2 separate regions of the Homo sapiens genome follow, and region 1 is linked to region 2. The links come from fine-mapping of genetic effects on gene expression. A gene starts in region 2. The other region holds a variant in brackets. All regions are shown on one strand. Distances are between the middles of the regions. Region 1 overlaps TMEM62 (transmembrane protein 62). Region 2 holds the start of CDAN1 (codanin 1).

Region 1 (15,994 bases), 410 kb before region 2:
GACAGAGGAACATGTTAAATGATACCCCAGGGATGTAAACAGCAAAAATCCAGAAAACAGGGAACTCCACAGGACCAAAGATTCAGTTTCCAAAACAAATAAATTTTAAGGGTACAAAAAAGAGGGGGGAGGTAAGGGATGCAATCTGTACAGTAAAAGAGATGAAAGAGACAAGTCGGTTAAATAGAATGTAAGAGCCTTGATTGAATTCCGATTTGAACCAACCAAATGAAAATATACATATCTATTTATCTATCTATCTGCCTATCTATCTATGTAACATATTGGGATAACCGAACATTAAATGGGTAGTTCGATATTACGGAACTACTGTTAGTCTTCCAGGTATGATATGGTATCATGGTTAAGTTTTTAAAAAACAGTCCTTATATTTTACTGATAAATATTGACATATTTACAGATGAAAGACATCATGGTGCAGGGAGGGGAGATAGGGATAAAGAAGGAACAAGATTGATCATGAGTTGATAATTGTTGAGACTGGCTGATGGATACATGGGAGTTCATTATAATATTATCTCTTTTGTATATTTAAAATTTTCCCATTATAAAAAAAACTTTAAAAATAACAATAAGAACTTACAGTTGTGTTTTTTAAGCTTTTATTGCTCAAAATGTGCTTATATTAAACTATGTTATTGTTTTAAAGCAGGAATCTAGATTTTTCTAATGTTTGAGATTAGACCTTTCTAGGGTCTACTCTTTAAATTGGCAAAGTAGGCACAATAATCTTAAACTACAGATACTCATACTTTAGTGGACATCAGAATCACCTGGAGAGATTGTTAAACTAGATTGCTAGGTCCTATCTCCAAAGTTTCTGATTCAGTAGATTTCAGATGGGACCTGAGAATTTCCATTTCTAACAAGTTCCCAGGTGATACTGATGCCACTAGCCCAGGACCCACATTGAAAATTGATCTAAAGGTCTAGTTGCTACTAGACTGTGGGGAACCTATAGATATTCAATAAATACAATGAGTAGGTAAAATATTAGATAATAAGTGTCTTCTCCCACGGATTTTGAGTTTCAAATCTGACTTATCTACAGTTTACTGTACTTAAAAGGACAGAACTTTCCCATGAATGAATGAAGGGACCAGGTTCCCTATTTAATACTCAGTAGGTTGTTTAAAGTTATACATATAAGAAAACAGAAAACAGATCAGTCCTTGCCTGAGAATGAGGATGTAAGGAAAACAGATTGCAAAGGATACAAGAAAACTTTTGAGGGAAATGTATCATATTGTTTGTAGGCGATGACTTCAAGGATGTATACATATGTCAAAACTCACCAAATTGTATACTTTAAATATACAGGGTTTATTATGTTATTATGTATAAATTATACCTTGATACCATTGTAAGAAATGTTAAACATACAAAAAGTATGTGATTTTACATTTTTACTAAGGATTCAACTAAGCAGCCAGAAATGTTTCAAGGAATATAAGCTATGGTTTTTTTTTCTTCATAAAACTACAGAAGTTGTATGTATATCTTATTAAGAAAATAATACACTGGGGTTCTGAGGCACTCCAGACTGTAGTGACTGTGAAGACAGGGAATAATTTATTCTAGGTGCACATGAACCTTCAAGTCTCTTTAAAATGATCCACCTTCTTCTAATATGAAAGACCTTAAGGGTTCATCCCCAGCTATCTCTCCTTCTACTTCTGCTGTAAGTTTTTTCTTCCTTCTACACAGAACATTTTAAAGATGGATGGCATAGCAGAGTGTCTTCTTTTGTGCAGATGTACAAGTTTCTCCATTTACAAACCAAGGGTAAAACTACCCCCAACAAAGGATTGTTTTGTGGATTAAGTAAAAAATTCTAAGTGCCTAGCATCTCCTTAGAGGGAGCTCAGTAAATAGTTTCTTCCTACTCAACCTGTCTCTGTAGGGGGGATAAAAAAGATAATGAAAATAACTACATATGTTTTCTGAAAAATTATTTAGTGTTTCAAATTAAGTCTTAATATTAGAAGATTAAATAGTTAACAACTGTCATCAAATCATAAAGTTGCAGAAATTGACAGGTGTGTGTGTGTGTGTGTGTGTTTAAGAAACTAATTTCTGAGCACAGCTTATCGCCTTAAGAGTTTAATGAAACTGCTCTATTTTGGTAATGATTATTATTTTCTACTCTGGCAGGTGCTAATAAATTAAATGCCCTAAATTGAATCAGAATAAGAAAAGGCAAACTGGTACTGCATATGCTAACAATGCTTATTCCTCTAACAAAAAAGTGCTTCTGATGCACTGAAAATTCTGTGTCCTGAAGCTTTCAAATAATGACACAATTGTCCTACAATTAGAGACAGCAATCAAAGACATGGATACATAATACATGTTTTCTGACTTATTCTATTACCTTTGGGTATACTGGGGAATTTGCCCCTATTATGAAAAGATTCTGGGCAAAGTTGGAAGAAAACACAAGAATGATTTCCTGGGGCTAAAAAAAGGGAGTCTATGGCCACTCCTCTTCTCCTCTGCCTAGTTTTTAATCTAATATTAGAATTATTCCAAGTGCCCATTTTCAGAATATACTAAATACAGTGTATTCAATTTATTTTTATTTTTATTTATTTATTTTTTGAGATAGGGTCTCGCTTTGTTACTCAGGCTAGAGTGCACTGGCACAATCAGAGCTCACTATAACCTTGAACTCCTGGGCTCAAGCGATCCTTCCATCTCAGCCTCCCAAGTAGCTAGGACTACAGATGCACGCCACCATGCCCAGCTAACTTTTATTTTTTTGTTGAGATGCGGTCTCACTATGTTGCCCTGGCTGGTCTCAAACTACTGGCCTCAAGCGATCCTCCAGCCTCAGCCCCAATTTTTTCACTTTTTTTGTTTATTTTGAGACAGGGTCTGGCTCTGTTGCCCAGGCTGGAGTGCAGTGGTGCAATCTCAGCTCACTGCAACCTCTACCTCCTGGGCTCAAGTGGATTCTCCTGCCTCAGCCTCCTGAGTAGCTGGGACTACAGGCACATGCCACTGTGCCCAGCCAATTTTTGTATTTTTTTGTAAAGACAGGGTTTCACTGTTTTGCCCAGGCTGGTCTCGAACTCCTATGCTTAGGTGATCTGCCTGCCTTGGCCTCCCAAAGTGCTGGGATTACAGGCGTGAGCCACCATGCCCGGCCCCCAGTTTTTTTTTAAACATGGTTTCATTACCAATTGACTAAAAAATTCCAAACCAGAATTCATTGTGGCTACAGCTTAATCATTTACATAGTAAATATAAATTACTAACTTACCTGGACGATTACTTCTATGTTATGTGTCCCACTACTGTAGTTTCTAGGATTCCACTTCAGTACGAAAATGGGACCAGACACATGAACAGCCTGGCCTAAATGAACTCCATCAATCTTAACTGTGACAGAAGTAATGGAGGATAAGGAAAAGGCCAAGACTCTAAAATGAGAGCATATATAAAACACATGGTTTGAGGTTTGTCATTGTTTTTGCAAAGGAGAATAACCTTATTGTAACTTGCAGATATACACGTATAGGCAGAACCATCATATTGTACAACAGCAGGAGCCACTATTGATATGATCTGGTTTCTTTCCGAATGGTGGCTTCTGGAGTTGGACAATTAGCAAAACTGAACTGGTAAGAAATTCGGAACTATTCTTTTACTTTTTAGAAAGAAAAATCAATTTTCTTTTGACAAATCTAGGTAAGGTAGATTCAAAGTTCTTTCTGAAGAAACTCCAGAAGTACTGATTTTTCTCTTAGGAAAATAATATAGGGTGGAAATCTCATTTTGTTAATCTAATGTCAAGCCTACCATCTACTCATTTGGTACCAGGGTGTCTGTCCCAAAGAAACAGGGTTATAACCAGAACTAGGCTACCAAGCCCTTTCAGAGAGTATGACACCTAAACCTGATATCCAGCTCCCACCAAAAAACCTGACTGACACATGTGTGTTCCATTTCATTAGTGATGAAAACAATAAATGTAAACATCTTGGTACCATTTTTTACAAGTTAATTAGTAAATACTTTTTAAAGCATAATATCCAATAATAATAAGAGTATTGTGAATTTGGCATTCATATTGCTTGGTAATATGATAAATTAGCATCTGTTGTTGAAAGTAATTGGATACCTGATACACTGCTGGTGGGAATGTAAAATGGTGCAGCCACCATGGAAAACAGTATGGCAGCTCCTTAAAAAATTAAACAGATAATTACCATATGATCCAGCAATTCCACTTCTGGATATATATCTAAAAGAAGTGACAGCAGGGACTTGAACCGTTATCTGTACACTCATATTCATAGAAGCGTTATTCAATATAGCCAAAAGTTAGAAGCAACCCAAGTGTCCATTGAACACATAAACAAAATGTGGTATGTGTGTATGTGTGTATACATATGTGTGTATATACACACACACACACACACACACACACACAATGTACAATGGAACATTATTCAGCCTTTAAAAGGAAGGAAATTCTGACATATGCCACAACATGTATAAACCTTGAAGACATCATGTTAAATGAAAATAAGCCAGTCACAAAAGTATAAATATTGAATGGTTCCACTTATATGAGTTAGCTAGAGTAGTCAAATTCATAGAGACAGAAAGTAGATTGGTGGTTGCCAGGGGCTGTGGGAGAGGGAAGAACAGGAAGTTATTGTTTAATGGGTAAAAGTTTCAGTTTTAGAAAATGATAAATGTTCTGGAAATGGATAATGGTGATGGTTGCAAAACAATGTAAACTTGAAGCAAACTTAATGCTACTGAACTGTACACTTGAAAATGGTTAAAATGGTACATTTTATGCCATGTGTACTTTGTTTAATCATGCTTACCATGATTAAAAATAGTGATTTTAGCTCCAAAAAAAAAGGGATTGAGCAATTTTTATCAACAGTCATAAAAGAATTCAAATTCTTTCACCTAGAATCCCACTTCTAGAACTCTTTCTTAAAGAAATTATTCAAGTGAAGGAAGAATATATATGTACCAGATATTCATCCACAAATAAGAAAAACCTTAAAAGTTCACCAATGAGATATGAAAATGGTTAGAAAAACTGTGGTACATTCTTTGTGCTGAAAGAAAACAAATCAGGAATTAGAATAGACTGTGCCTTATGATTATAATTATATAAAAACATCTTAAGAGAGAATGCCTGAGAAGAAATACTCAGAAGTGCTAATAATAGTTCTATTAGAAGTGGAGAAAAACATACTTAAAATCCCATTACCCTATTTTCCAAAGGTTGTTCTATTGTATTACTTTTCAAAATAAATTGTAAAAGTATATTTTAAAAAGTGCTCTTACATTTGAAACAAGTTATATATCTCTTTGCAAAAAGAATGTTAATGTCCCATTTGGATTCTATTAATCTATATAATCAAATTCATGGCCAGGCATGGTGGTTCAAGCCTGTAATCCCAGCACTTGGGGAGGCGTAGGAGGGCGGATCCCTTGAGGTCAGGAGTTCGAGACCAGCCTGGCCAACGCGGTGAAACCCTCTCTCTACTAAAAATACAAAAATTAGCCAGGCGTGGTGGCACACATCTGTAATCTCAGCTACTCCAGAGGCTGAGGCATGAGAAAAGCTTGAACTCGGGAGGCAGTGGTTGCAGTGAGCCAAGATCAGGCCACTGCACTCCAGCCCGGGCAACAAAGCAAGACTCTGTCGAAAATCAAAACAAAACAAAACAAAACAAATTCATTTGCCAACTGAATTTTCAATTCCATAAGGATTATATATATAGCTTTTGCTTTCTTAGAAGGCTACATAACAAATGAAAAAAAATTTGATATATAATGCAAATTTTAAAAAGTAGACTATAAAGGAATATGTACATTATGCTTATAGCAATGTAAAAGCGTCCAAATAAAAAGGCTGGAATAAAATAAAACAAAAATAATAATGGTAGAATTATAGATTTCTGAATGGTTTTTAAAATTTCATCAGCTTAAAAAAATGATATGCTTTTTAACTTAATGGAAACAAAACAGTAAGCAATCTATCTTTATATAATGTTTAGGTTGTTGAGAAAACTAAAATGGGGCATCTCATAGCTTTCACATGGGAATGCAATCACAATGACTTATTCTCCTTCATTATCAAACTGAAAGTAAATTCTAAAAAATTGCTACATACCTGATGTGTGTTGAGTGAAGAAGTCTTTCTAGTGGTTCATGTTCACCACAACTATAAAGGAGTGATTTAGGATTGGTGATAAGAACCACAGGCCACTTCCCAAAGATCAAATCTGCAAAGCTAAAGAGGTCGTGATCAAAAGCAAAAATCCGGTACCTAAAGACCAGATAATGATAAGGTAATTTAGTCACTTCACATTGTAAGAGGTCATGAAGGTAATATACAGAACAAATATAAAAATACATAACTAGGACTTTTTTACATGATTAATTTGAATACAGATTAAGTAATATTTTCTTTCTTTCTTCCCTTACCCCATCACTTTATCCTTCACATTTGTCACATAACTGCCTCTGACTGGGCAATGGATTCAACTGTGCTCTTGAACAACACCTGGTACACGGCATGTACTCTTTAATTTTTAAATAAATACTTGTTGAAGTAACTCATCTTATCCCTGTACTTTAAGACAATTTTGAACCTAAAATATTTATTATAACCCTAATACTTGACATTCTTCATCCCATCAACAATGCTACATAAAATATTAAAATGGTTGATATGAACAAAATTAGAAATCTTTCATGCTTCTTTTAAACCTTTCTTTCTTTTTTTTTTTTTTTTTTCTTATTTTTGAGATGGAGTCTCACTCCGTCACCCAGGCTGGAGTGCAGTGGCGCAGTCTTGGCTCACTGCAACCTCTGCCTCAGCCTCCCAAGTAGCTGGGATTACAGGTGCCCGCCACCACACCTGGCTATTTTTAGCAGAGATAGGGTTTCACCATGTTGGCCAGGCTGGTCTCGAACTCCTGACCGCAGGTGATCCCCCTCACCTTGGCTTCCCAAAGTGCTGGGATTATAGGCGTAAGCCACCATGCCTAGCATTAAACATTTATTTCTATAATTTCAAAGAAATTAAAGTTGTTTTCATTTTCCAAATGCAATAACAAAAGGTATAAAATATTCATTAAAGAATAACCAAAGTTTTATATTTTCTAACTTTTAGAACTAAAAAAAGAAATGATTCACTATGGCAGAAACAATAGTGCTCACGAAATTCTCTACACATTCCCCTGAATTTCCCAGTCTCCTGGTATCAGGTTGGGACCATGTGACTAGTTTTGGCCAATGGGCTGTGAAGAGAAGTGACACATATCATGCCTGTGGTCCAAAGTACTTAAGAGTGGGTGTGAGTTCTCCTTGCTCTCTTCCCTGCCCTGGAATCGACATGTCGAAATAGGAATTTTAAGATGGAGGAAGTCTGAATTACTGACTCATCCCATGGATAAGAGTTGTTCTGACTCATATTGAATTTATACAAATGAAAAACATTTGTGTTAAGCCACTGATATTTCTGGATTTATCTGCATCTACAACAAGGCCTAGCCTAATATTTCCAATATACTGTTTTTAAAAATTATTCTATTGTAACTAACACAATTTAAGTGTTTATAAGGGCAGGTAAAGTTTAGGTCCTTTTATCTGGAGTACGCTCCAAATAAAACCCCAGGGTTGGACACAGGAAAACTGGTGGAGAGAGAAAGGAAATGCCTTCATAATTAACATCACAACTTGTAACTAGAGCACTTAGAAGAAATAAAGAAGCTGGTCAAGGCTTAGTAAGACTATCTCACAAAAGGCAATCATAGCCCAGCCCACAGCCTCACAGCCATGAACAGACAACTCTTAGCTCAAAGTAATTATAGTTGCCAAATAATTACACGTTTCAAGCATAACTCACACAGTTTTTAAAAAGTCAACCAAAATGAGAAAGTACCTTCCAAGATGTAAAGTTCCTTTTTAATTAATGGAAGTAGTTAAAAAT[A/C]AAAAGATAACATATTCAGCTCAACAAACCTTTGCTGAGTACCTATTATCTGAGAGCACAGGGTTTGTGTAAATTAAATAACTGTAATAGTTAAACAATAAGATGATACTCCTCAAAACTTGATAAACTATTTCACTTAAATACTTCTTTTTAAAAAAGAAAAAACCATATATTTAACTACACTACATGCTTTTGATAAACATATTTTCTCTTAGAGAGACTTTAACCTTAAAAAAGCCAACTATCATCTATTTGAAGAAGTTAAATCACTACCATCTTGTAACAATAACCAGTATGGTAGATACAAAATTCAGGAGGAAAAACATGACACTTCTAGTCCTAGTATTTCTCAAATTGTCATGCATAGACCACCCAGAGGGCTTTTAAAAAAGGCAGTTTGGGCCAGGCGCCATGGCTCACGCCTGTAATCCTAGTACTTTGGGAGGCCGAGGCGGGTGGATCACCTGAGGTCAAGAGTTCAAGACCAGCCTGGCAAACATGGTGAAACCCCATCTCTACTAAAATACAAAAATTAGCTGAGCATGATGGTGGGTGCCTGTAATCTCAGCTACTCTGGGCAGCTGAACGTGACTCTGTCTCAAAAAAAAAAAAAAATGTAATTTGTTGGACCCTAATCCAGACCAACACAATCAAAATCTCTAGAGGCAGCGCCTGAAAATTTTTATTTTTCATAAGCTCCTCCATAATTCTTGTGCACACTAGAGTTTGAGTCCAATTCCTAATGGACATATCTTGAAAATCCAATGTAACATAGTGATAGTAAACATCCCTGCTATGACAAGGTTTCCGCAAAATGACAAAGATTTCAGAGACATATATTACTTTAAAAAAACAGAAATATCACAAGTTTTTCTTTAACTGTGATCACCCATGATATCAGTAAGAAAACTATCATTGCTTTGGCAAAACTTATGTGTATAAGTTTTCTTCTATGGGGAGGTTCCCTTACCTCCTATTATCCTTCCAGTCTCCCACCTCAAGTTCCAAAGTGCCCTGGAAGTGACGAGTGTGCAAAACAGGCATCAGTCCACCAAGTGTATGGAGATGTCCACACAAATAAGCTATAGCCGAACTAACCAATGAAAAATAAATGAAATAAATGAACAAAGATAACGCGTGAGGCCAAACTAATAAAAATGTCTTGCCAGAAAAGCAGAATAGGTAACAGCAAAATAAAAAAACTAAAAACAAATTAATTCTGATTTTGGAAGCTTGTCTCACCTCATTATTGACCGGATTCCTGGTGATGGAGAAAGAATAGTGGATGTTGTAAAGTGTCCAAACCAAATTGTATGGTTGCTCCGACTGCTTTCCTTGGCCAGTAATAAGAGCTCCTCCATCTTTTTCTGAGATGGGAGAAAAATGGAAGGATCTTAAATTAGGGCTCAGGCTAAAATCTAATGTCAACAGATTAGAAAACTCCTCTGAAGATTTATAATAATTATTATATGTGTCTAGGCCTTAAACCTTACTAGTTAATGACCTCTATGGACCTCTGTAAGTTTCAAATTGTTTTCACATACATTATATTTCATTTGATACTAAAAATAACTCTGCAATAGGTAGGGTAGGTATTATCCTCTTTTAATAGATAAGGAAACTGCGAAATGAAGTCATCACTAATCTTTACAGCTTTGTATAACACTTTACGATTAATAAAGAGGATACAGAAACTAAACTTCTAAAATAATATCATGGAAAGACTTCTACCTAAATGTTTATAACAGCTCTGATAATAGCCAAAAACTAGAAACCATCAACAAGTTGTAATACATCCACACGATGGAACAGCACTCAGCAACAGAAAGGAAAGAACTACTGATACACACAATCATACGGATGGATCTCAGAAACATTATACTGAGCAAAAGAAGCCAGACCCAAGAGTACATACTGTATGATTTCATTTATACAAAATTTTAGAACAAACAAAATGAATCTATACTGATAGAAAACCAATCAGTAATTCCCTAGGAAGTGAAGACAGACTGTACAAGGATGACAAGACTTTAGGATGATGGAAATGTTCTATGTCTTAACTGTGGTGACAGTTATACCAATATATACATTTGTCAAAACTCTTCAAACATTTAAAATGAGGGTATTTTATAGTACTCAAATCATACCTCAAAAGTTGATTTCAAAAAATAACTGGTACCTATGTAAATATGCATTAATATTATATGTAAGGTGCTTACAGCAATACATTTCTGGGATCTACCCTCAGGGTTTTTAATTTGATAAGTCTGGGGCAAGGCAAGGGAATCTGTATTTTGTAACACTCCAGTTGGTTTTCATGTACATGATCCTTGAATTCTACCTTTAAAAAACACTATACTAAGGAATGGGATTTAATATAAGTTCATCAACCCTGACTAAAGACACTTGATAGATAAGAAACAAAATAGAACCTAATTAAATAAAATGCCTAAAGTAACACAATGCATTTGACAATATTCTGTTCACTTGATTTCACATTCTTTCGAACTCTCGTATAACTCTGAACCTCTTACTTCTAATTTAGCAAATTCTGCTCTTTATTATATTTATTTCTATACTGGTCTTATACCTCACCACTAGATTAAATACTCTAAGAGTCTAAGAACTTGATCTTATCACTTTTGTATTCTTTCATATGAGCACATATGTCTTACTTAGGGGCATATGCTTATTAAATAATGAGTTGGCATTTACTGTACCAAGAAATAATAAGAGGTTCTCAAATGAGACTTTCCACACAGTTTAAATCCAGCAATCACCTAGCCTTGTCAAAATACTTGAAAATAAACTTATTGATTTCAATAGTCATCCTTCTCTTCTTTAAAAAAATACAGACCAGCTGGGCACAGTGGCTCATGCCTGTAATCCCAGCACTTTGGGAGGCTGAGGCAGGTGGATCACTTGAGATCAGGAGTTCGAGACCACCCTGGCCAACATGGCGAAACCCCCTTTCTACTAAAAATGCAAAAATTAGCTGGGCATGGTGGCACGTGCCTGTAATCTTAGCTATTTGGGAGGCTGAGGCACAAGAATTGCTTGAGCCTGGGATGTGGAGGTTGCAGTGAGCTGAAATCACACCACTGCACTCCAGCCTGGCCGACAGAGCAAAACTCCGTCTCAAAAAATAAACACTAGTTAGAACTGGCAATTGTGGGAACTTAGGAATATACCACACAAAGCTGTATGTCCTGTAACTTGCAAAGTGCATCCTGTACTCAGTACCTATTTAATAAATGTTTACTCCATAAAGTGTGAGGTACTTCTTTCTCAGATTTTGGGACAAGAAAAAGGATAGCAAAAATAGTGCTGAAATAGCCAGTAACTTCTAGCCATACCTGTAACCAAGTTAAATTTCTCCAAAGCATTCCTAGATAACAACTAGTTTACTTTTGATAACTTTAAGTGATCCACACGTATCCATGAAAAAATAAGTAAGCTACAAAGGGAAGTAAGATTTTTACTGCACCTTATCTAAAATTCCAAAGAAATTATAGGGTCTCTTAGGCCCTGGATTTACAGTGGCATCTACACAGATGAACGAATAGTTGCCAAAGGGAGTACTGTGGACATAATGGAAAGAGCCATCTCTACGTACAGCAGAATATTTCCTAAAAAATAGAAGACAGGAGGGTGTTAGTGTAATAAAAAGACAATGCTTTAAAATTCCTTCCCTAATACGCTAGATTTTACCTTCCTTTGAAAACGAGATTTGCTGATCTGACAGAAATATACTAAACTAGATCCACAATGGATAAACTGATGAAATTTCAAAGTTTTTCTCCCATTGTCCCCAAAGACTCATGCAAACTCATTCAATAACCAAATACAAGTTCACCAAGTTCAGAAGTAAGACGGCTCTTTTAGGGAGTCCATTAAATGTTCAAAAAGAAATCAAAATCCAGTGGAACAGTATTTATCAATCATTTGCAGATTTAGTGAGGGCATACTAAGTACCTAGAATTCTTGGTGTAGTGAGATAAAAAAGCTGTCTACTTCTTGAAACAGGACTACAGAGGCTTAATTCACAAGAAAGACTTGCAAAGATGAAGTCTTCAAGCAAGGAGAAAAAATATTAGTCTAGGTCTGGGTTGTTAAATCTTTTTCAGTTCCTAAAGATATATTGATAACATACACAGGGTCTATATCCACTAATGAAAGTTTACCACCTTAAGCGTCAACAGTGTTCAGGTGTCCATAAAACTGCAGAGTGAAGACCAGGAAGAAAGGATGAGTAACACAGTACAGGGCAGGCACTCATTAAGTATGTGTTGAATAAATAAGAAGGAAAGTATAGATTTTATTGGAGGGCATACCTATATTATTCAAATGTCAGAACATTATAAGAAAAGTTGGTATTATCATTTATCTAAGTGTCTTACATGATTTTTACCTAACAGCATATATTTAAAAATACAAATAAACTCCTGAAATTTAATATGCTAGTGGGCCACAACAACCATCAAATATAATGTAACCCGAGTAAATATATGATATAGACATTACAACTAATACTCAGAAATTAGTCAAACCCAATTTAAACAATGTCAATTAGTTCTACTGCCTTTCTTCTTGGTATTTTTTAAATTTCCATTTCAGGGCCAGGCGCGGTGGCTCCCGCCTGTAATCCCAGCACTTTGGAAGGCCGAGGTAGGCGGATCACGAGGTCAGGAGATCGAGACCATCCTGGCTAACATGGTGAAACCCCATCTCTACTAAAAATACAAAAAAATTAGCCGGGCGTGCTGGCGGGCGCCTGTAGTCCCAGCTACTCCAGAGGCTGAGGCAGGACAATGGCTTGAACCCGGGAGGCGGAGCTTGCAGTGAGTGGAGATCGTGCCACTGCACTCCAGCCTAGATGACAGAATGAGACTCTGTCTCAAAAAAAAAAAAAAAAAAATTCTATTTCAGGGTTTTATTCTAAATTAAAATTTTTACTTATATTTTTTCTTGCTTATTTTATGTTCAGTTATTCCTCAGAATCTTTTTTTTTTTTTTTTGAGACGGAGTCTCACTCTGTCGCCCAGGCTGGAGTGCAGTGACGCGATCTTGGCTCACTGCAAGCTCTGCCTCCTCTCTGGGACATTTTTAAGATCAAGATTTAACTTTAATTTTTTTTCTTCAGATTGGTATTTCTGTAATATTTATATTTTTAGTAAAATGCCATTTATTAAATTCAGATAAAGTTTAGGTGGCTAAAAACAAAAATACAAAGGTAAGAAACTTTAAAGTGACTATTCACTTTACTTTCCCAATAACCACTCAGCCCCAAGTCCTGTTAATTACTTTTGAACATGTCTCCTAACTCCCCACAGTCACCATGAAAGATACAAACAGTTAACAGGAAGTGAAAGATTTTCATCTCTGTCCTCTTCCTTTCTCACATTAACAAAAGAGAACAACCTCCTCTTCCAATGTATGGTGACTCTAATCATACAAACTCAGTTAACCAGTGCTTTTTGACCTATCATCCTCAAATTGATGTCACCATCTCCATATCCAAGAACTTAGTTCAGATGGGTATGACTTTTCATTATCATGACTAGACTATTGCAGGACCCTCCTATTTAGTCCACATAACTCCAATATCTCTTTTTTCCTTTTTATCCCATCTTTTTCCTTTTTTATTGTGGGATTGCCATTTATAAAACACTATTTTAATTATGTTACTTGCCTCCTTAAGAACCTATGCTGAATTATGAACTATTACCCATCACATCTCAACTTCTATGCTTGTTACTTAAGACCTCCATAAATTAGCCCTAGGCTGCCTATCCAGTGTCATACTAGTCCTCAGTATGAATGTTAATTCTGGTGACACCAGTTTTCTTACTGCCCCTGCAAAGTTCAGTTTTTGGTTTCCCAGTCTGTAGCTTTTAAAGATCTCTTCATACCTATCTTTTTGCCTAAAATATCCTCCTTGGCATGTCTTACTTCTTCAAATGCTACTCATCTTTTAAGATTGGACACACTTTTTGCTTCTTTTATAAAGTCTTCTCTATGTCCACCCCCATGCTTTTCTAATTTCTCATAGTGATTATCATGTGTACCAAATAATCTAGCATTTCCTCGGCCATTTCTTCATGTTATTTTCTAATTGTTTCCTAAATAATTCTGATGTCCCTTAACTACACTATCAGTTCCTTGAAGGCAAAAGCCAAATTTTTAACATTAACTCATGTATCTCTCACACTATCCAACTAGGGATGGATTCTCAATAAATATTTGCTACATGATTGATTGACAATGCAGAACAAAGCTACTGAATACCCTGAGGCTGAAAAGTGCACTGCAACCAAAAGAGGAATCTAAACATAATGAAACTAGACAATTGGTTTCTAATTCAGAGATCCCTTGCCTTTTCACATTTGTGACAAATAAAGATTATTTTAATATTTGTATGACACAGGATGAAAAGATAAAGCAGCCAGGTGACTAACTGGGCTCTCCAGCCACCACAGAGGCCAGGAGAATCAGTATCTCAGGATTCTGAAAACCCAGTGACCTCAGTAGTGTGGCTGACAAGCTCTGATATAAATGACTTTTCCTATGTATCAATGACTTAAACAATTTTTTAAGCCCGTGTGGAATATTAAAAGTACCATTAGCCAAAACAAAGCATTAAACTGCATGCATATTTCAGAGATATTGTGGTTCCTGACACCACAATAAAGCAAATATTGCAAAAAAGCGAGTCACATGAATTTTTTGGTTTCCCAGTGTGTATGAAAGTTATGTTTACGGCTGGGCGTAGTGGCTTATGCCTGTAATCTCAGCACTTTTGGAGGCCAAGGCAGGCAGATCACTTGAGGTCAGGAGTTTGAGACCAGCCTGGCCAACATGGCAAAACTCTGTCTCTACTAAAAATACAAAAATTATCCAGGCATGGTGGCACATGCCTGTAGTCCCAGCTACTCAGGAGGCTGAGCCAGGAGACTCGCTTGAACCAGGGAGGTGGAGGTTGCAGTGAGCCAAGATGGTGCCACTGCACTCCAGCCTGGGCAACAGAGCAAGATCCTGTCTCAAAAGAAAAAAAAAAAGTTATGTTTACACCATACTATAGTCTATTTAGTGTGCAATTGCATCATGTCTAGAAAAACAATGCACATACCTTAATTTATAAATACTTCTACTGACTGGGCATGGTGGCTCACGCCTGTTACCCTAGCACTTTGGGAGGCCGAGGTGAGTGGATCACTTGAGCCCAGGAGTTCAAGACTAGCCTGGGCAACATTTAGAAACCCTGTCTCTATAAAAAACACAGTAATTAGCCAGGCATGGTGGCTCACGCCTGTGGTCCCAGCTACCCGAGAGGCTGAGGTGGGAGGATCACTTTGAGCCTGGAAGGTGGAGATTGCAGTGAGCTGAGATCGCGCCATTGCACTCCAGCCTGGGTGACAGAGAGACCCTGTCTCAAAAAAAAAACCAAAAAAACAAAAAAAAACCTTACTGCTAAAAATGCTAATGATCATCTGAGCCTTCAGCGAGTCAAAATCTTTTTACTGGTGGAGGGTCTTGTTTTGACGTTGGTGGCTGCTGACTGATCAGGGTGGTGGTTGGGGTGGCTGTGGTAATTTCTTAAAATAAGGTAACCATGAAGTTTGCTACATCAATTGACTTTTCCTTTCACAAGAATTTCTTGGCCGGGCGCGGTGGCTCACCCCTGTAATCCCAGCACTTTGGGAGGCCGAGGTGGGCAGATCACGAGGTCAGGAGTTCAAGACCAGCCTGGCCAATATGGTGAAACCCTGTCTCTACTAAAATATAAAAATTAGCGGGTCATGGTGGCAGGCGCCTGTAGTCCCAGCTACTTAGGAGGCTGAGGCAGGAGAATTGCTTGAACCCGGGAGGCGGAGGTTGCAGTGAGCCAAGATCGCACCACTGCACCCCAGCCTGGGTGACAGAGCAAGCCTCCATCTCAAAAAAAAAAAAAAAAAAAGAATTTCTCTATAGCATGCAATGCTGCTTGATAGCATTTTA
Region 2 (15,994 bases):
CACTTTCCATTACCATAGTTTTATTATTAGAGGGGCCCTAGGGTCCTTCTCACTACGTAATTTGGCATTGCCACTAAAATATATTGTAGACTGCTTTATAGCAGGCCCTCCCCACCCCAGGGCTGCACGGCAGGAGGCATTACCGCCTGAGCTCCGCCTCCTATCAGATCAGCAGTGGCATCAGATTCCCATAGGAGCGTGAACCCTGTTGTGAACTGCACATGGGAGAGATCTAGGTTGTACGCTCCTTATGAGAATCTAATTAATGCCTGATGATCTGGGGTGGAACACTTTCATCCTGAAACCATCCTTGCCCCTCCTCCCCCCATCGTGGAAAAATTGTCTTCCACGAAACTGCTCCTTGGTGCTAAAAAGGTTGGGGACCACTGCTTTGTAGTTTATAAAAACACTTTTATATGTTCCATTTTCTTTGATTCTTAGGCCAAACCAGAAAGACATTTAGGACAAAGAAGACATTTGCTATTCATATGAATACTCTAAGAATTCTGAGGCCCAAGGGCCGGGGCACTACGGTTCATGCTTGTAATCCCAGCACTTTGGGAGGCTGAGACAGGAGGATTGCTAGAGCTCAGGAGTTTGACACCAGCCTGGGCAATGTGGCAAAACCGTCTCTACACAAAATATAAAAATTAGCCAGGCATGCACTACAGGTGCACACCTGTCATCCCAGCTACTCAGGAGGCTGAGGTGGGAGGATTGCATGAGCCCAGGAGGTCGAGACTGCAGTGAGCTGTGATCATCCCACTGCACTTCAGCCTGAGTGACAGAGCAAGACCCTGTTTAAAAAAAAAAAAAAAAAAAATCTGAGGCCCAAGCTCAGTTGCCAGTATGGAGTGGGCAGTCAGTTCCAGCCTCCACCCTCCTTAATCCCAGACTATTGACAGGAATAGAAACTGAGGTCCACAGAAACCAATGACTACTCTTTTCTCTTGTAAATTATTAAATGAGTTGAATGTACATTTATCTGTAGTTCCTCCTGTTGCTGAGTGTAGTTCATGTTGAAGACTTAGGGGTGACAGATCCTTGGCAGAAAAAAGAAAATTAAAAAAAAAAACACTTACATTGTGGGATTTCGTGTTTGTAGGATTCCTGTCCTAACATCCTTACACAGTATGGTTTACTCTCTGTCTTATGTGCTAACATGCTAGAGACAATTTAACATGCTAGTTAAATTCATCTGAAAATTAGCAGAATAAACATGGCATAGGAGGAAGGGAACGAATACCATTTAAGGGCTTCTTCATGGCAGATGTTCATCTACGTACTTGGGTCACTGCCCTTGGTCTGTTCAGTGACCCTGTGAGATAGACAGTATTCCCATTGAAAGCAGGGAGAGATTGAAGAATTTGTCCAGGGTCATACAACTAGTATATGACAGAGTAACCCTGTATCCTGTTAGTCTATTTTCTGATTTCTACACATTCACATTATGATTTTGGGACATTGTGACTTTTTAGGCACACTTGAAATGAATTAAAATTAAAATATATTTTCTCTGTTCTTTTAAGGCTACGCAGATATAAAGTCCTAGGGAGTAGTAACTCCGACTCAGACCTTTTCTCCCGCCTGGCCCAAATTCTTCAAAATGGATCTCAGAAACCCCGGAGCACTACTCAGTGCAAGAGTCCAGGATCTCCTCACAATCCAAAAACACCACCCAAGAGTCCAGTTGTCCCTCGCAGGAGTCCCAGTGCCTCTCCTCGAAGCTCATCCTTGCCTCGCACGTCTAGTTCCTCACCATCTAGGGCTGGACGGCCCCACCATGACCAGAGGAGTTCGTCCCCACATCTGGGGAGAAGCAAGTCACCTCCCAGCCACTCAGGATCTTCCTCCTCCAGGAGGTCCTGCCAACAGGAGCATTGCAAACCCAGCAAGAATGGCCTGAAAGGATCCGGCAGCCTCCACCACCACTCAGCCAGCACTAAAACCCCCCAAGGGAAGAGTAAGCCAGCCAGTAAACTCAGCAGATAGGAGCCAGGCTGCATCTCTTTGAAAGGTGTGAGATCTTCCTCCTAAACCTGATGCATGTGTGTCCCTGTACTTTCTATGTAAAAAAATCAGTGTTGATCTTCTCTTGCAAAAGAAAGTAACATGATCAATTATTTATAAGAAGACATAATACATGATAAGGAATTACCTAAGGCAGGCAGCAAGTAGATTAGGAATCAATGTCTTTGTACAAGAAGGAAAAATAGAGCAAAAATCCAAGGGGGAGAAACTCATTAAAATGAGCTCTCATTTTTTAAGCTGCCTTTGAAACAAAAGAGTTGAGGATAGGAGATAGAATGGAATTTTAGGGGGGTTGCCTAATTTTTTTAAGCCTCAATTCAAAGATTATATAGCAAAAGTGAAACTTCTTGTTTGATATTTTCATTCAAAACTTTCCCACCCTGAAGAGTCATTGATCAGATATTAGATTATATAAGAAGTCTGTTGCCAGGGAGCCAGTATTCATGTATATTTGGCTTGTGTGTTTATTTCGTGTATTGAGAATGAACACCTTTACTTTGCCTCATTCCTAGTACCCTCCCTGGAGTTCAGATTTTTTTTTAAAATTTTGTATGTCTCGTCTGATTCAATCTCTCTGCTTTTATTTTATGGTCCTAGTTGTACTATCAAATCCAATTACTTTTTTTTAGGTCCCCCTGATTTTTTTTTTTTAGAGCAAGAGTTCTTAACATATTACATTTTTATTATGAAAAATAAGAAAGTTAGGTAAAGGAAAGAAAAGTCTAACTAGAGCTATTTTGCAGGCTTTAGTGTTTAGGGAGAGAAAGAAAGTGTGGGTTAATAGCCTTCAAGATAGAAGATGCCCTTTCATCTCTGTTAAGTGTCCTCCTTTAGAAACTTGAGTAGAAGGAAAACTGACCAGAGTAGACTGCTTCCTTAAGTCTTCTGGGTTCCAACTGTTTGTAATATCAGCATCCAAGATGATACGAGGGAAGCACAATGCTTTGGACTGTGATTTGAGATTTAGAAATAAATTAGATATATTATTGAGGCTTAGAATCCTCAAACTTTGTATTTTATACATTTAGCCAATAAGGAATTAATATCTGGGGAAATAAATTTAGGCAAATATTTCTTTTTTAATGTTTTATTACCTGCTTCTCCTGTGTTTTAGTTCAACATTTGGGCTTCTTGGCCTGATTTTCATACAATCTCAATTTACGAAGCTGTAAAGAGGAAGATATTTGTTCTAATCTCACTCTTCTAATAGGAATCAGGCAAATGAAAGTCTACCAGACTTTTAAAATGGGCTGTTTTTATACTCTCTAGGTGTTTTGTGTTGTAAAGACCTTATTAAGGTCAGGTAAATTGGTCTGCTTGCTGTTGAAATTTGCCTTCTAGCAAACATATGTGCTTTCTGTTTGACCTTGTGTTTGCTGCCAAACCTAATACAGTTGAATTGGGAAACAAAAAAAAAAGAAAGGAATACATTTCCTCCCCAAGTGAACATCTTCTAATGCTGCATCAAAGCTGCCCTGAAGCTGCACTGAACTTCTCTTGTTCTCTTTATCTGTGTTGAGCTTTTTAAAAAAACAAACTCAAAACACTATTGAGGCATATAACGTCTCTTATAAGAAATGTAGCATAGTGTGGAATCTTAATTTCTCTCCAGTTTCAAACACTCCAGAGGAATGCAATAGATAAGACATACTTGCTGTTTATCTAAAGCAACTGTAATATTGGAAGATCAGTCCTTCTGTATTATATTGTATAATAGTTGCTATAACACTACTTGCATGTCTTCATGGTAAATTATATAAATATTTATAAATATATAGAGAGACATATCCTTATATAGAGTCATTCTTTGTCATTCTCCATTTGTAATTTCGAGATCACAGATGGCGAAATTCCTTTTCTATTGTGTGCCTCATGTACACTTGGGCCTTGCCTATCTTCATTTTCTGAAACTATGTTCTTGGCATGTGACACCTCAGAGTCTTCTTGCCTTCCCTGTGTACAATGCAAGGGTGGGCAGTATTTAACAAGCCAAGATAGGTTATTTAATTTTCATTTCAAAAAGATTTTAATAGGGAAAAAATTACAGGGACATGCTTGTAATACTGGTTCAGAGATTTGTCATGTTAATCACATAGTTCTCTCCTTATAGTTAGAGTGGATAAACTGGGATGATGATGAGTCTGACAGATTTTTAAAACATTTCTTAAAAATTGCCATTCTACTTTCCTCTTTTCATCTCACTTTTTTTGCAGGGGGTCGGGGGAATAATGAAGAAATTGTCATATTTCTGTTGCATTAGCTAAATTGTGCTAAAAGTAGCTAGCTTTAAATCCTGACCCCTTTAGTCGGAAATATGCTAGTAGTAATCATTGGAAAAGCTGATGAAGCTACAACTGTGGTACGTGTGTGTGATTTTATTTCTTATTGGCATTTCTCTGCTGGCAGTTGGAACTGACAGTGATGGGAATGTGGCAACTGAATGTTTTCTCTCTTTCTTGGTTCCTTCCATTTTTATCTCAACTTTTCTAGTGTGTTGTCCCCTTTTCTAAATGGCATTGACAAACTCATCAAGATCCAGAGATAAACAGTCCATCGTTTAAGAATATTTTATTTTGCATGTAGAGGAAAGAATTAACCAAAGACGTTTCTGCTCTGATACTTTCTAAAGAAAACAGACTAATTATATATAAGTGGTATCAATAGGTCTGCTTATAAGTATTGTCCTATGTAGAGATTTACTTTTTGGTTTTTACAAGCATAGTTTGCGCTTTTAGATGTCTCTCAGGTGAAAAATAGAAGTTGGCAGCCCTGAGCAAGCACCTGTGACACAGGGATTTTTATTTTAGTTTTAAAGTATGATACAGAGAATGAGGTTTTTGGTTTGATTTGGTTTGGTTGTGTTTTTTAGTTCTTTATTTTTTATTTGGGGGTTCTCTTAGTGATGGCATATTTCAGGTTTCAGTGACATAGATCAAGTAATTTTAAACCAATTTGGTTATTCTATCTAAGATGAGGGACATGGCTATTAAGGTCAAGCCAAACTATACTAAAAGTAGTATAGGGCAGCAGTTAAAATTATCTTTTGAAAATCAAGTATTACCTGGTTTCTTCTGTCACAACAGAATAGCTGGTTACCTAGTCAGTCACAGTTGCCCTTGCCTTCCCTTGTTAGTCCCTGGAGGTACTTGAGTGGAACAGAAGGTAGAATTAGCAACAGCTCAATCACTTTAGGTAGCATTTCTCCTGAATTCTGCTGCCAAATCCTCAGGGTCTATGGATTGGTTGAAATAGTAAAATCACACATAGTGATTTCTTGCACAGCGTAGAGGCGTTTAATTTTAGTGTATAGTGAACAAAGAAGGAAAACTGGGTCATATAAAATTTAACCTTAAAACACAGATTATAAATATCTTTGAATGTTAAGCCCTAGGCAGACAGACACTCTCATTCTTAACTCTGGTATGCAAGCTGGCCTTGCTGACAGTGGCATAGTTACATTAACTGTTTTTTAAGTTGCATGTTGTGATGTGAATGTTTTTTGTAAAAGTTGCCAAGTTAATCGAGTCCTAAATAAGTAGCCAAATGGTAACTGAGACCCACTGTAGACATTACTCGCTTTATATTATTTGCTTTCAAATACTAAAACCTCAGCTGCTAATTCAGCGCTCTAGGTGTACAGTGTCTCCTTCCCTTGGCTCCTAGCAATGTAGGGAACTTGAGGTTCTTCAGTATCTTCAGAGATTCCTTCCAGGCCACATATTTTTATGCTAATACTTCTATAGTTGCATTCAATCTACAAGGAGAAAGTGTACATTGGTGCATGTTTTATAAACCCAGACACAGATAGCTAAAACCATAATTAGTTTTTCTATACCCAGAGCTTTGAATTAAAAACAGATGCTTTTTTTTTCCCCAAGAGCAGACAGTTCTACATTCCTAACATTAGGAATTGGTGATACGAGAAGCAGGATCCAGAATTCAGAATGATTTAGTGAGACTCGGTGAAAAAAATGCATTTTCCCCTGGCTGTTTGAAAATTTACTTATTTGCAGATAAGTCTAGATTTAGTCTTGGAGATCAAAGTCTTTTATATTTTAAAAACTTATTCTTTATATTGATCAAACATGGCATATGTTAGAGAACCACTTCTTCTGTCATGTTTATGTATTTTGGAATTAAGTTGTTTGCATTCACTTTCAAAATCTGCCCATTTCTGTTTATGTGCACTTACCACAGATGTGTCGGGACTTTGCCTCAGGGGAGAGGTACTTTAGCACCTGTGTCACTGAGGAGATGGAGTGGTTGACAAGTACTGTTGCGCTGTGTAACTTGGGGTTTGGCCCTGTGGACAATATATTAGCAGAATGATACCACACAAAAGTATTACAGGATTAAGGCATGTAACTTCTATGGTAGTCCTTATGTATCAGCGTATACCCAAGTTCAGAAACCACAGGTGCATTTTTAGACCTTTACTTAGAGAACTAAAGGCAGTTCCAACCATCAGCCCATATGGCGGGATTAATGCATGAAAACCCTCAGAGGGTGTTGGGACATCCTACTTCCCTGTCCTCACCCAGTGGAACTCTGGTGTGTGCCTTGAGGATAAGGAAGTAGAGTGGAAACTCATCCTATCATTGAGTATTCTCAATATTTTGGCCTTCCCTCTGGAATTATGAGAAATTTAACAAAGTCTCAGGAACCTTTAGAATCCATTGTCCAACACTGCTAGAAAAACTGTAGGAGGTACATGGAGAATTCCTATAGTTCTTAGGTAAGTGCAAGACATGGCACAGGGATCCCTATCCACATAAAGGGGAATCTGGATGCTGCACACCTCAATTCTGAGAAATCCCTGACTGAACTTGGAATTATGACAGTAAAGTTTTCGTCCTTTAGTTTTCTAGAGCAGCTCACAGAAATTTTAAAAAGTAAAACAAGGCCAGGCGCAGTGGCTCATGCCTGTAATCCCAGCTCTTTGGGAGGCTGAGGCGGGCAGATCACGAGGTGAGGAGATCGAGACCATCCTGGCTAACAGGGTGAAACCCCGTCTCTACTGAAAATACAAAAAATTAGCTGGGCATGGTGGCGGGCGCCTGTAGTCCCAGATGCTCAGGAGGCTGAGGCAGGAGAATCGCTTGAACCTGGGAGGCAGAAGATTACAGTAAGCCAAGATCGCCCCACTGCACTCCAGCCTGGGCGACAGAGTGAGACTCCGTCTCAAAAAAAAAAAAAAAAAAAAGTAAAACAAAAATAAAGTCTATGCCCATTAAGACGTCTTCTAATTCAGTTGTGATTGTCTGCTCCTACTTAAAAAAATATTTAAGCTTGATGTTTAATTATTCCCTTTCAGCAAATTTGGATCAGAAAATTAAAGTATGTGACAAGATCAGGTCACCTTGAATTTCCACACAATCTCAAGACACTGAATAGCAAAAAAGTAACATTACACAGTAATGATTAGGATATTTCCTTAGACTTTGCTGGATCTTTGGTCTTAAGGTAACATGTAAAAGTAGTGAAGCCTTTCCTTTCATGGCCCTGTGCAATGTAACGGTTTTCTGCCTCCTCTTCAGCTGGAAGCGTTAGTGGTAGTATGGGCACAGAATATATGTACACTGGCGATGCTGACCATGCCTCCCAGGTACCCTGGCTCTGGGTTCCTTGACCTAGGGAACAAGATTGGATGAGGCAGATCTTTGAGCCCATGTGACTATAGAATTTGCTGATGATATAATTTTACAATAACAATGGATAGGAATTTTACCTCTCTTTTTATTAGTTTAATATTATTTAATATTATGTACATAAGTGTTCACTCGCCTAATTAAAAACATTGAGTAAACCAAGTTTTTATATAGACTACCCTTGCCATATGATGCTCTTTTTCTCTAATAATATGCAGTTTAAATCCTGAGGAATCAATGCCCAGCATTTCACCACATCTGAACTCTGTGTGGGCATTCTTCACTCGCCTACAAGGGGTAAACAAGGCTACCAGAACTTGAATTTGACTTATAGGGAGCTACCCAGGAAGGGGAAAGCCCTTGGGACTTTTTCCAAAACAATCTTCTATTTGAACTGTTCATCAGCCAAAGTAGTCCACTGAGGTGACAAAGCTTTCAGAAATACAAAGATGGGAAGATAAAGGTAACACTGGCCCACTTGGGGCTTTGACATTGGATTGGGTGGACTGAATAAACACAGCCTAGGTGGCCTGGGCTTGAGCCTCACTTACTTCTCCTTGATACATAGTTCCTGGTCTACCTTCTGACCCTTTTTCTAAAATAGCCAGTGTCTATTTCACTAGGCCATTTACTTACAAGTTCCCAGCTTTTAGGGAAAAAAGAGGGAGGGGGGAGCATCTAGTTTTGAATTAGATATACATCTTAGAAGTAATGAGCTATTGGCAGCTGTTAAATCAGATTCAGCCACAAACCAGAATTCTTTCTTGTTGAACAAGACCAATGAGTTAGATGACTTTAATAATTCCACTTTTCTCTCCCTCTCTTCTCCTCTTCCTGAAATCAGAGAGATGAGAAACTACTCTTTGAAATACCTCCAGAGGCGTTTTATTGTGTTCCTTTCCCCTCCAAGCAGCTCCCTTTATACAATTTTGCTCAGGCAACCAAGGACAGAGTATCGGCAGAAACATGGAGTGCTTTTGTATAGGCCACCTGTACATAAAAGTGTAATTATTTATTTAATTTTCCCATTTGTATCATATTAAAGCTTTGTACAGTGTTTTAAGTTCTGTTTTAAAATTATTTTGTATTTTATTTTTATAACCTAGTAATAAAATATTCATTCCGCATGCAAAATCTAGTTCTGTTTGTGTGATGGTCTGGATTTCAAAAGTGGAAAATATTTTTCTAATTTAATAAAGTTATTGAATACACCAGATGTTACAAGATCAACGGGGAGCAGATAGTGTTACTGTAAATGCAGTACCACATCTAGAAGTTCCCTAGAAAAAGCAGCCCAGGACTGAATAGAAGCTAGGTGTTAAGTGTCCCTGCAGTTAGGAGATGTTTTCCTGTAATAAAATTAAAATATTAAAAGCTCCTTTTTAGTCCATTATTCTGTCTGGCTGGAGGTACTTTTTCCTTCTCCATAGGAAATACCCCTTCTGCCACTAGAGAGATTCCTGCACCCCCACCCTCATCCTTCCGCCCGTAACCTTCCTTTGAACCAGAGCAACTCTCAGGAGGCATTCACAAGGGCACTGCCTCACCCCTCCTGGTTTGGTTTGACATGGAATGTTCGTGCCATCTGTTTTTCTCCGCTTGGATTCCCTTGCTTGATTTGTCACTGAGCAGCAACCTTCAAAATCCTCTCTCAGGTTTTTTTGTTTTGTTTTGTTTTTGAGATGGAGTCTCGCTCTGTCACCCAGGCTGGAGTGCAGTGGCGTGATCTTGGATCACTGCAACCTCCGCCTCCCAGGTTCAAGCGATTCTCCTGCCTCAGCCTCCCCAGTAGCTAGGACTACAGGCGCGTGCCACCACGCCCAGTTAATTTTTGTATTTTTATTAGAGACACGGTTTCACCATGTTGGCCAGGATGGTCTCCATCTCTCGACCTCGTGATCCGCCCACCTCTGCCTCCCACTGCATTCCAGCCCCGGGGGTGACAGAGCGAGACTCCATCTCAAAATAAAATTAAATAAAGGAGATTAAGAAATTACTCAGGCCGGGCGTGGTGGCCCACGCCTATAATCCCAGCACTTTGGATCTGCTGCCCTCTCCCGGCCAAAACATTAGCTGGGCTATAGCCCTAGGGAGGCTGAGTCGGGAGGATTGCTTGAGCCCAGGAGGCCAAGGCTGCAGTGAGCCGTGCTCACGCCACTGCACTCCAGCCTGGGCAACAGAGCAAGACCCTGTCTCAAAAAAAACAAAACAAAAACAAAAAACACCAAACCCAAAAATACAAACCTCAAGCTCCCAGAAGCTAATCATGATATGCTTACTGACATCTAAACTGCAAAGTAGTTGAAATATTAACCTCATGTAAACCCACTTAAGTAAATAAAGCTACATACAAGCAATTCTGTGTGCAGGGTGGCCCGAGGCACTTTAAGGGTTGTGGCTTGGGGATTATTAAGAACCTCCTAGAAATAATTCTTTCCTAAATGGTCAGTTGATGGTGAGCGCTGAAAAGCCGATGGGTACTGCTCGGCCAAGGGATTGAAAAATCGGCCTTTGAGAAGAACAAAGTCAAAATGAAAGATTAGATTATAATTTCTCTGGGGTGGTGCCAGTTGGATCTAGGAAACTTAAACTCGTGAAAGAATGTGCTTAGAGCAGAAGATAGAAGCTGGTGGCTGTCTCTGCTCCCCTCTACCTCTCTCCCGGGTCCTGGGTCTCCCTAGAGGGGCGTCCGACCCGCGGCAGCCCCACTCCCAGCTCGAATCCCTCCCTTCAGGTCGCTCCAGGGCGGGCAGCCAAGGTGGGCCTCCCCAGGCGCTGTGATCCACATTTCACCTCCTAACAACCGGCCTCTCGGCCGGGGTTGAGGACTCAGCGAGGCCTTGACTCCGTGGGTCTGGGCAACAGCCGGCTCCGCCCCGCCCCGCCAGCCGGGTCCCTCCCCATCCCGCGACCCAACGGTCGTTCCCCGCCGCCGGCCCCGCCCCTCCCTGGCCGCCCGCGGCGCGCCGGCGCCTGCGCAGTCGCCCCAGAGCGCCCCGACCGGGATGGCGGCCGTTTTGGAGTCGCTGCTGCGAGAAGAGGTGTCGGTCGCAGCCGTCGTGCGGTGGATCGCGCGCAGCACCCAGGGTTCGGAGGTAACAGCGGTGACACGCCCCCAGGTCTGACTCGAAGCCGGTTCCCGCAGTGGAGTCCAGCCCTCCAGTCCCCTTCCTCTAGGGCGCCTGGCTGCCAGCCGGGCCGAGTGCACTCCAACTGGGCGCCGCTGCCCGGGCCGCCCACCCGAGGCGCGCCCTACGGCCCCGGCTGCTCACGGCCCGCGGGCCGGCGGCTGACCCTCTCGCCCCTCCACCTGTGCTTCTGCCCTAGGATAACGCTGGGGAGGCGGCCGCGCTGAGCTCACTCCGGGCCCTGCGGAAAGAATTCGTACCGTTCCTGTTGAACTTCCTGAGGGAGCAGAGCAGCCGCGTCCTCCCGCAGGGGCCCCCGACCCCCGCCAAGACCCCGGGCGCCTCGGCAGCCTTGCCAGGGAGGCCGGGAGGCCCGCCGCGGGGTAGCCGCGGGGCGCGCAGCCAGCTTTTCCCTCCGACCGAGGCCCAGAGCACCGCTGCCGAGGCCCCTCTGGCCCGCCGCGGGGGCAGGAGGCGGGGCCCGGGGCCGGCCCGCGAGCGTGGAGGCCGCGGCCTGGAGGAGGGGGTCAGCGGGGAGAGCCTGCCCGGAGCCGGGGGCCGGAGGCTTAGGGGCTCTGGCAGCCCCAGCCGCCCCAGCCTCACGCTGTCTGATCCGCCAAACCTCAGCAACCTGGAGGAGTTCCCTCCCGTAGGCTCGGTTCCCCCCGGCCCTACAGGGTGAGACTCAGCTCTCATGCAGGAGATGGGTACCACGAAGGCTCTGGGGAGTCAGTCATTCGAGCTCGGCGCTCCGCAGTGGAGCGCCAGGATGGGTAGAAGGCTGGGGGTGATGGTGAGGGTTTTTGTGGGGTTTTTTGGCAAGAGGTCTAGCTGTTGCGGTGGTGGAGGGGAGATGTTTGAAGATAGGAATTTGAGAAAAACCTGTGGCTACTCTCAGCAGGACGAAGCCTTCTCGCAGGATCAACCCAACTCCGGTGAGCGAAGAGCGGTCACTCTCCAAGCCCAAGACCTGCTTCACCTCACCCCCAATCAGCTGTGTCCCCAGTTCCCAACCCTCAGCCCTGGACACTAGCCCTTGGGGCCTTGGCCTTCCCCCAGGGTGCAGAAGTCTGCAAGAGGAGCGAGAGATGCTCAGGAAGGAGCGGTATGGCCTGGCCGCTCCTGGGGATATCGGTTTCCTCGCTGTGGGGGATCTTCAGGGGTTTTCCCTGAAATTGATTTCCCTCTTGGGGACTCTGGGTTTGTCTCCTGGGCTGTTGGTATCTTCTCTGGAGTGACCTGAGTGTGGCCGTAGCAGGGAAGCCAAGCTGACTGCTCATGAAATTTCTTTATTCCATAGCTCTAAGCAGCTGCAGCAGTCACCTACCCCCACCTGTCCCACCCCAGAATTGGGGTCGCCCCTCCCCAGCCGGACAGGAAGCCTCACAGATGAACCTGCAGACCCTGCCAGAGTGTCTTCCCGCCAGCGCCTGGAGCTTGTAGCCCTTGTTTACTCCTCGTGCATTGCTGGTGAGTGAGAGCGGAGGGAGCGGGAGTGGAGACACTTGTAGAACTTATGGGTAAGAGAATTGGTAAGGCACTTGGAACTGAGCCTTGGCTCCAAATGGTGCCCATACCATGGGCTTTCTTTTTGTATCTATCTAGAGAACCTGGTACCAAACCTCTTCTTGGAGCTTTTCTTCGTCTTTCAGCTCCTCACTGCCCGGAGGATGGTGACTGCCAAGGACAGCGACCCTGAACTAAGTCCAGCTGTCCTAGGTCAGTGAGCAAGCCTCCTTTTGAGACATGGGGTCTAGAAACGGGACCGTTCTTAACTGACAGCTTGGTACTGTCCTTCTAGATTCCCTGGAAAGTCCACTGTTCCAAAGCATCCACGATTGTGTCTTCTTTGCAGTGCAGGTTTTGGAGTGTCACTTTCAGTGAGTTTCCCTGGCTGAGGCATTTGGGCCTCATTCTCATCATCTGCTTAGCTCTCTGGCTGCTTGGGATATATGCTGGTGCTTAACACAGGGGCAGTGGTCCTGGACCTTCTCCTACCTATAATCTTTCTTTAATTTTGTGTTAAGGCTATGAATGTAGTCCCTGAAAGAATTGAGATCGGGCCAGGTGTGGTGGCTCACGCCTGCATTCCCACCACTTTGAGAGGCCGAGGCAGGACAGTGACTTAGGCCCAGGAGTTTTAGACCAGCCTGGGCAACATGACAAAATCCCATCTCCACCAAAAAAAAAAAAAAAAAAAGGCCGGGTGTGGGGGAGTGCGCCTATAATCCCAGCTACTTAGGAGGCTGAGGTGGAAGGATCTCCTGAGCCTGGGAGGTCCAGGCTGTAGTGAGATCACGCCACTGCAGCCTGGGTGACGCCCAGCCCAGCCTGGGTGACAGAGACCCCCATCTCAAAAAAAAAGAAAAAGAAATGGACCCCTGTGGTCTTGGCAGCTGAGCTTTGGTTTCTGGGTAATGTTCCTGTCCTGCTGTCTTGGTCCTTGCTCTGTAAAGTCTCATATCCTCCCCTTGACTTTCATTATCTTTGATCCTTGGCCCATGACCTTGCAGTACATATCTGGGCTTGCATACCTGCGCCATGCCTTAGAGATCCTCTGTGGTGTGCAGGTGCTTGCTTCCTACTTGCAGTCTGTGTTCTGGTCTCAGTCATAGGTGCTCTTGTCCCTGCAGGGTTCTTTCCAACCTGGACAAAGGGACCTTGAAGCTGCTGGCTGAGAATGAGCGGCTGCTGTGCTTCTCACCAGCTCTGCAAGGCCGCCTTCGAGCTGCCTATGAGGGCAGTGTTGCCAAGGTAGTAACCCCAGCTTAGTTGCCCACTAGCCTGGACCTAACCCTTCCTAGCTTTCATAAATTCAGGCAACCCTGCTGACGACACTTCAGTGTAATGTGAGCTAACTCTGGGCAAGAATAAGAGGGAGAAGTTTTCTCAGCATGACCCTGCAGTTCCTAACGTTCCTGCTGTATTTTAGGTCTCTCTGGTGATGCCTCCCTCTACTCAAGCTGTCTCCTTTCAGCCAGAGACTGACAATCGTGCCAACTTCTCCAGTGACCGAGCCTTTCATACTTTTAAGAAACAGAGGTGATAAGAAAAGGGACTTTTTGGGGAGGGAATGAGATGACATTTTTCTGGAATAGGCAGCTGTTTGGTTTCATAGAAATTAGGAGTTTGGCACCAACAGGTGGTGGGTTAGTCCCCCCAGGTCCTTCCTGCCGGCCATCATAGGGACCACCTGGCTTCATTCTCATGTGCATCTGTGAACCCCGGCGCTTAGCAAGCCATCTCACAGGTGTATGGTTTTAGTCTCAGGGTTCTCAAGCAAGAGTGTGCCAGGATGAACTGTCACTGCCCACAGAAGTACATGAAGCCTGTAATGTGCTGCTGGTCTGTAGCACTACTGTCATCATATAGAGAACTCTGGAGAAATTTAAAAATGGGGCTGCTGGCCGGGTGTGGTGGCTCACGCCTGTAATCCTAGCACTTCAGGAGGCCGAGGGGCGGATCACCTGAGGTCAGGAGTTTGAGACCAGCCGGGCCAACATGGTGAAACTCCGTCTCTACTAAAAATACAAAAATTAGCCAGGCGTGGTGGTGGGCACTTGTAATCCCAGCTACTCTGGAGGCTGAGGCAGGAGAATCGCTTGAACCCAGGCGGGGCGGAGGTTGCAGTGAGCTGAGATCGCGTCATTGCAATCCAGCCTGAGTGACAAGAGCAAGACTCCATCTCCAAAAAAAAAAAAGGTGGTGGGTGGGCTACGGATAGTTCTTCCAGGGGCAGGAAGGCACTGGTGGGAGTGAGTGCCTCGGCTGATCAGGCGTTCTTATGCGTCAGGGATGTGTTTTATGAGGTGCTGCGAGAGTGGGAAGATCACCATGAGGAGCCTGGCTGGGATTTTGAGAAGGGCTTGGGCAGCAGAATCAGGTGGGTGCTCAGACCTTGTCTTTCTTGTTCCTGGCAATGAGTAGCTCAGTGCTTGCTCGGTGGCAGGAGGGAGGAGGAGGGAAGGTTTTCCCCGCTCCTACCAGCCATTAGCTGTTTTCTACTATCCTCCGAAATCTCTTTAGTTATTGATAACTCTGCCTCTATTCGAAAGGGATGTGTCTCTCCAGCTCCTTCCACTCACAGGTGTCTTATCCTTGTTCTGTAGTGGCAATTGCTTAGAAAGTCCAAAGCTCTTAACTCAGGTTGCTTGAGGTTTTTTTGGCCCAAGTCACTGCTTAGACACATCCAGCCTCCATCTTCTCCATCCTCTAATTTGGGCAAGTCTGGTCACTGTGCAGGTAGATGCCTGGGCTCAGAACGCGAACCTCAGTCCAGTCATCTCCCTTCACATTGCTCATGAAACCCGCCGCCTGTTAGTGTGGCTGAAGACGGTCGGGGGGTGTGGTCGCATGATTTCTTGTTTGGTTAAGTGCACCTCTAGCCTCGGAGGACCTTGGTGCTGAGGGAGTGTCCCTTGCCTTCAGTGTCCCTTTGCAGGCTGGCTCTGGCTGAGGTCTGCTCAAGTCCCTGGTAAACGGCTGGGAAGTCCAGGGGTTGGCTGCTTCTCTCAGATCTTTCTCCCTCTCCCTCCTTTCCACACCCTTCATTCCTGCCTTCTATTCCTCAGGGCCATGATGGGTCAGCTCTCCGCAGCCTGCAGCCACAGCCACTTTGTTCGGCTTTTCCAAAAACAACTACTCCAGGTAACAGCCCCAGCAAGAGATTAATCCACATTAAACAGCAGGCATCACAGGCAGCCACTTAACGGCTGCACTTTGGGATAGGGCAGACAGCCTGGCAGGTCCTGGGCTGGAATTTGAACAAGAGTTCTACTCCTCGCGGAGTGGCTGAAACTCCAGTGGCCACAGAAAAGCCAGGGCACTCTCTTTGACACATCCCGGGCCCTGCAGCTCCTCTAGCCTGCTGCTGCCTTCCCTGATTTGTGCTGTGGTAAAGAGCCCAGGCTTAGTAAGTAGTCAAGCTTTGTTTCAGATCCTAGCTCTAGTGACCCTAGGCACATGCTTAACCTTGGAATTTAAGTTTCTTCACCTGTGAAACAATACTGTAATTCACATCTCAGAAAATCTATCTAAAGCACTTGACACAGTTGGCATTCCTTAAATGTTCATTACTTTCTCCTTATTTTTTGTTCAGTCCTTCCCTCCCACTTGCTGATTTTTTTAATTTCTCTCCTTCCTCTTCCACCCTAGATGTGTCAGAGCCCTGGTGGTGCTGGGGGCACC

What was found. PIP is the estimated chance that this variant, and not a neighbour inherited with it, causes the effect. A credible set is the group of variants that fine-mapping cannot tell apart.
Region 1: its variant is the best candidate, but not a certain one, in a credible set for the expression of CDAN1 in whole blood (TOPMed, PIP 0.68).

The regions. Positions count from the first base shown.
Region 1 is chr15:43,142,124-43,158,117 of GRCh38, reverse strand. It overlaps TMEM62 (transmembrane protein 62), which reads right to left. Exons shown (of 14, transcript NM_024956.4): 5 at 11,484-11,625; 6 at 9,239-9,363; 7 at 8,967-9,089; 8 at 6,173-6,328; 9 at 3,287-3,446. Among named protein-coding and RNA genes, the nearest start is that of TMEM62, 17 kb to the right of the region's middle. The variant A/C (reference allele first, on the strand shown) is at 7,997.
Region 2 is chr15:42,731,793-42,747,786 of GRCh38, reverse strand. It overlaps CDAN1 (codanin 1), which reads left to right and starts at 10,659. Exons shown (of 28, transcript NM_138477.4): 1 at 10,659-10,774; 2 at 11,007-11,485; 3 at 11,709-11,912; 4 at 12,108-12,277; 5 at 12,413-12,526; 6 at 12,609-12,687; 7 at 13,441-13,561; 8 at 13,740-13,849; 9 at 14,601-14,690; 10 at 15,379-15,454; 11 at 15,962-15,994. The coding sequence starts at 10,685. It overlaps TTBK2 (tau tubulin kinase 2), which reads left to right. Exons shown (of 15, transcript NM_173500.4): 15 at 1,530-9,057. The coding sequence ends at 1,992. It overlaps TTBK2-AS1 (TTBK2 antisense RNA 1), which reads right to left and starts at 8,669. Exons shown (of 3, transcript NR_186317.1): 1 at 8,552-8,669; 2 at 6,224-6,334; 3 at 4,585-5,785. RefSeq lists silencers at 10,473-10,722, 10,913-11,052, 11,143-11,432.